2 separate regions of the Homo sapiens genome follow, and region 1 is linked to region 2. Evidence: fine-mapped expression QTL. A gene starts in region 2. The other region holds a variant in brackets. All regions are shown on one strand. Distances are from middle to middle.

Region 1 (2,906 bases), 73 kb after region 2:
TTATGCTAGAGTCAGGTTAGAAAGCAGACCACGCTATATAGGGTTAAAATTAAAACCTCCTCCGATAAGACTTTATGGTTTGTAGGGCATGACTCCCTAGGCTCCTTAGGTAGGAATTTGGGCAAGATAAAAAAAAAAAAAATCAGAGTTTAGTCCTCAAAGGACTGGAATAATCAGGGAAGACTTCATGGAGGAAGCAGGTCTTGAGAAGAATCTTAAGAATCTGGGTAAGTGGAATAGAAGGCATCCCAGGCCAGGGTAACAGCATGAGCAAAGGAATAAAGGTAGGGAGGAGAACAGTGCTGAAAGCCCACATACATCTTGGTACTGCTTTCTCCATATCACAGATGAAGAAACTGAGGCTCAGAAAAGTAGAATAATGTTCCCCTGGCTGCACTACTAGTGTAGAAATCAGAAAAGCTAGGCTTCAAATTCCATCTATCTGACTCCAAAGCTCATCACTTTCCCAAGATCCACACTGCATTCTATGGCACAGCTCTGAGGGGGTGTGAGGGGAGGTGATGGGGTAGGGCTGGATTCGGTTGACACCAGAGATGATTGTATCTCTTCACAACTCCACATCCAGTGATGTCATGTTGGTAGCTTGTCATCAGCCATGGTGGGAGTATTTACACCAAGGAAATTGGCAACCACTACAAATCAAAGTTTTGTTAGTTTGGTTGATTGGCTGGTTGGGTTTTCTTCCCCCATGAATAGCTAGTTACTATAAAGTTAGCAGCACACCACTGGCTGGATAAGAACCATGGAAACCAGGTAAAGCAGTGTCTAAAGGCAGGAGAAGACCTGTGCTTAAAGCACTGGAAATCAAGGAGCCCATGAAGGAGAAGATGCCAGGGCGGTGGGTCTTAGGATGAAGGCTCTGACACTGGAATGCAGTCCACATGGAGTGTGGAGTCAAGCCCCAGAGGCCATGTAGGAGGGGCTGAGTACTAGGCCTGGTTTGGGGAGGGGCACTGGGGCAGTTGAGCATCCAGGAAGAACATGGCTGATAACCCAGAGCACGTGGCAGGCAGCCTTTTGAGAGAAAGAAAAGAGTGTCTGTGAGCTCCATGAGACTTCAGACCTTGCCTCATTCATCTGTGTCCCTGGTGCCTAAAACCATGCATGGTACAAAGGAGGCTCTATGCAATTGCACCAAAAAAAAAAAAAAAAAAAAAGAGAGAGAGAGAGAGGCTGAGGCTGTAGAGGAGTTTATAGAACAATTGAATCAATGATTAAGCAGACAAGTGATACTGATGAAGCTGAGATGCCATGCCTGGGAGAGCCATACATATCTAGTAGATTTACCAGGTTAGAGGACTTGACTCC[G/GTT]TTTTTTTTTTTTTTTTTCCAGTAGAGATAGGGTTTCGCTATGTCACCCAGGCTGGTCCCGAACTCCTGAGCTCAAGCCTGGAGTTCAGTGCCTGCCTCGGCTCCCCAAAGTTCTGGGATTAGAGGCATGAGCCACCGTGCCCAGCCAGAGGACTTGACTCTAATTGTTTTCGTTCTCAACCAGCTAGGTGATCCTGAACAAACCATTATCCCTTTCTTTTATTTATTTAATTATTTTTTTTTTTTTGAGGCACAGTCTTGCTCTATCACCAGGTTGGAGTGCAGTGGTGAGATCTTGGTCGGCTCACTGCAACCTCCGCCTCCCGGGTTCAAGTGATTCCCCTGCCTCAGCCTCCTGAGTAGCTGGGACTACAGGCACACGCCACCATATCCAGCTAATTTATATATATATATTTTTAGTAGAGACGGGGTTTCACCATCTTGGCCAAGATGGTCTCGATCTCCTGACCTCGTGATCCGCCCGCCTTGGCCTCCCAAAGTGCTGGGATTACAGACATGAGCCACCACACACGGCCGCCATTATCCCTTTCTTGGCCAGCCTCTGAATCTGTGCGATGAATAATTTGTACTGTCTTTGGTTTTGTATAATTCTGGATGAAACAAATTTCTAAAAATTTCCAAATAAATTGCTGCAGGCTCAGGATTCATTCCAATGCTCAGCAGAAAGGCAGCAGGGCTTGGCTGAAACAGCCTGGACTTGGACTCTCGAGGCTTGAGTCAGAGGACCGGCCCCTCGTGGGCTGGGCGTGTGTGTGGCTTAGGAGGAAATCCCTTCCTCTCTGGGCTTTTTTCTCTCCATCTGTAAAATGGAGCGGCTCCCCAGGAAGCCAGTCAAGGACGAAGTTACGCATGTTCTTTCCCCAGGAAGGCTCCACTTCCCAAGAATGCTTGGCACCCCTTGTCGTCCCAGCAGATGGCAAAGAGGTGAGAGGAGCCTTTGTCTTGGACCGGCCCCAGAGGCTCCGTCATCCCTCTTTGGTTGTTTCTGGTGCTTAATTGCCTCTGGTTTTAAAACTCCTTTCCCTGAAGCCACATTAGTGGGTAATCAATAGGGAAAAACCACAAGTGAACTGCACTCAAAAAAGTAAAATCCCTTTGGTTCCCTCTTGAGAGGAAGAAAAACATTCAATAAGCACTTAATGGAACCCGATTACTAGCAAATAATTCCTCAGAACAACGCTTTGAGGTAGGTTTTATTATCCCCACTTTACAGAAGAGGAAATAATAACACCTATTACGTATTAAGCATACACTGCATGCAAAGCACTGTTCTAATTACTTGCCATGGAATGTTGCGCTTATTCCATGGAACAATCCTGAAGACAGGGACTATCATTAATCCTGCTTTATATATTAGAAAACAGAGGAACGAGTGTGGTAGTGCAGGCCTGTGATCCCAACACTTTGGGATGCTAAGGTGGGAGGATCACTTGAGGCCAGGAGTTTGAGACCAGCCTGGGCAACATGGTGAAACCCCATCTCTACTAAAAAATACAAAAAATTAGCCGGACATGGTGGCACACGCCTGTGGTCCCAGCTACTTGGGAGGCTGAGGT
Region 2 (2,906 bases):
CTCTTCTCGAGTAGGGGTAACCTCTCCCACTGTCAAAACTAAACTAGCTCAAGTCTTTCTCACCTGCAAAATAAACTCTCGAGTGCATCTCTCTCCAGCTACTGCCCCATGTCTTCTCCCCTTCGTGACCAGCTGTCTACACTTCCTGCCTCCATTTCCCCACTTTCTTACTCCCTGGCTCCTGCCCCCACGACACAACTGTTCCCCACAGGGCCACAGGCGGGCATCACTCAGTGTTGACAGGCTGCCCCTCCCTGTGACATAGCCCCCTGCTAGTACGCTCCTATCTCAGTCCCCTCCTCCCATGACCTGAGGCTGGAGCTCCCCCAGGATCTCTCCCAGGCCCTCTGCTCGCCATCAAAGGCGGATGCCTCACAAGCTTACGACTCCAGACAGGCTCACCCAACTGCCTCCTCCACCCAACGCTGCAGCCCACTCAAGGTCCACGTAGTCCAAGCTGCATTCCTTCCTCGCACTCCCTTGCCCTGTGTCCCCTCTTAGCAAATGGCAGCCTCGGCGATCCTGCCCCGAGACAGGCCTGCGCCCAGCGTGGAGATGAACATCAGTATTTGCTGAACGTGTAAACGAATCCTTGACCTTCCCTCATGCTCCACAGCCGGTGAGGATTCCTGTCCATTTTACTGCCTCCTACGTCCCTCGAGTCCTCCCCTCTGCTTCTTTGTTCACCGCGGCCAGCTGCCTCCCCAGACCCGCAACCCCGGCTGGGCCGGGAACCTGCACCGCGGCGCTCGTGCCCCGCTCTGCGACCCCTGCTCCGTGACGGCCGCACTGCACCGGGGTACCGCGGCCCAGCACAGGCGCTGGTCACTAGTACACGAACTAGCTAGGACTACAGGTGCACACCACCACACCTGGCTAATTTTTTATTTTTTGTAGAGATAATGTCTTACTAAGTTACCCAGGCTGGTCTTCTGGGCTCAAGCCATCCTCCTGCCTCGGGCTCCCAAAGTGCAGACATTACAGGCATGACCCACCGTGCACAGCGTCAGCTTTATTTTTTTAATGCTGACTTACTGCAGAAGGCCCAAGGGCCAGTGCAGTTTTCATACTGCTGTTGTAGTGGCGAACGGAGCCACGAGGGAAGGGAGCGCCGCCGGCAGCTGCCGGGACACCAGGATACCACGCGGCCAGCACCGAAACGCTAGGCTCGCGCTCACAACCGCAATCTACACTGAGTAGCCGCGCGCCGAACGGCGTGACTAAGCCCCGCCCACACGGCGCTCCTGGCGGCCAATGGAAATGGCTTACGAGACGCCTTCTCCACGCGCTATACTTATACGGACCAATGGGTGCGCCCTGTGGGGAGTGCCGCCCCCTGTCCACGAGCCTCCTCTTCTCGCCAGCCAATGGAAGCGGTCTGCCTAGCCCTCGCGGGGGCAAGGCGGCGACCGAGGCGCGTGGGTCTGGGAAGGCGCGCGGATTTGGCCCCTCTTCTCACATCAGCGGGTCCAGGCCCAACCGACAGACTATGGGGGCTCCGGCAACCAGGCGCTGCGTGGAGTGGCTGCTGGGCCTCTACTTCCTCAGCCACATCCCCATCACCCTGTTCATGGACCTGCAGGCGGTGCTGCCGCGCGAGCTCTACCCAGTCGAGGTGAGGGGCGCCCCTCTTATCCCGGCCCGCTGAGGCTCTCCCGGCGCTGCGTCCACAGGGCCTTCACCTCCTCCGCGCTCGCGCACTCTGGGTTCCAGTTGCCTCTCTCGGGTCCTGCCCATGCCTCCCCCGCTCCTAACCCAACTTTAGTTCGGTGTTTTCCTCGGGCTTTGTCTCTATCCCAGCCCCTTCTCCCAAGCGGCGGGGGCGAACGCTTTGTTTCCTTTAAAGTCACTTCTTCCCTGGGTTTAAGGTTTCCCGCGATTCCACCTCTGGCCGGTTGTCAGTGTCTGAGGGAAGTAGTCTGGATGAAGTGGTGTCCAAAGTCACATGTTAGGTTTGCTTTAAGCTTCTGGTTTTTTGTTTGTTTGTTTGGAAGGGCTTTAAAATACCAGTCTGATCCCAAAGAAAAAATCCGAGTAGAAATAGACCTGTCTGAAGGTTTAGCACCTTGGTTGGTGCAGCTGGGGCGTTCACAGATCGTCACTGCTTCGAGATCAGGTTCCAGCAACTTCCAGAGCTCAGGAGTAAATTGCCATCTTTTCAGATTGGCTCTTCAATATTGGGTTCGAGTAACAATGATCTCCTGAGTAAAAATAAAGGTGAAAATCCCGATTTCCTGGTTGTTGGAGAGCATTCTTTCAACCCCAAACTCTGCTTTAATGCTTTGTTTTTTTCTTCAAAGCTATAGTTTTAGTTTCCCGGTTCGTTGAGGTTTTTTTCTCGTATCTGGACCCTGTGACCTTCTTCCATGGAATTCCTGTCCTCAGTTTTGTTTCTCCATCTTATCTATAACTGTAGGCAGGACTGACTTGTCTACCCGAAGATTTTATTTTGCGTCTGTTTTTCCTTAAATGCTTTTTATCTGCCGAGGAGGGGTTCTTTACCTGAGGGTCATGAACTCCCAAAAATGGGTGCAAGTGTGTGTGCCTTTTGTTTCCTGCAAGGAGAATATAGCTTCCATCGACTTTTCAAGGGGCCTAACTCTCCCAAAAAGGCCACGGCTCAAGAATGTTCTACCACTCCCATAAGTCACTCTTTTTTGTTTGCTTCTAGAACCAAACACAACTGGAAGACCTCTGACCTCCTTTTGCATGGGAAAAGCGTAGGTAGCGTGTAGCAAGTTGCAGTCTGGGGACTTGGTTCTTCCAAGAACTGGAGGTGACTTGGGCAGGTCAGGGCTCTATATCCTCCTCAACTGTTGAGAGAGTTGAGTTAAATTATAAGCTCAAACATATACAGGGTGGGTTAGTTTTCATATTGCTGTTGTAGTTACCACAAATGTAGTGAT

The links. PIP is the estimated chance that this variant, and not a neighbour inherited with it, causes the effect. A credible set is the group of variants that fine-mapping cannot tell apart.
Region 1: its variant is the best candidate, but not a certain one, in a credible set for the expression of TMEM97 in subcutaneous fat (FUSION, PIP 0.77).

What each region holds. Positions count from the first base shown.
Region 1 is chr17:28,390,551-28,393,456 of GRCh38, forward strand. All of the region lies in intron 7 of SARM1 (sterile alpha and TIR motif containing 1), which reads left to right. Among named protein-coding and RNA genes, the nearest start is that of SLC46A1, 14 kb to the right of the region's middle. The variant G/GTT (reference allele first, on the strand shown) is at 1,330.
Region 2 is chr17:28,317,751-28,320,656 of GRCh38, forward strand. TMEM97 (transmembrane protein 97) reads left to right here and starts at 1,450. Exons shown (of 3, transcript NM_014573.3): 1 at 1,450-1,615. The coding sequence starts at 1,490. RefSeq lists enhancers at 1-554, 774-1,033, 1,514-1,573.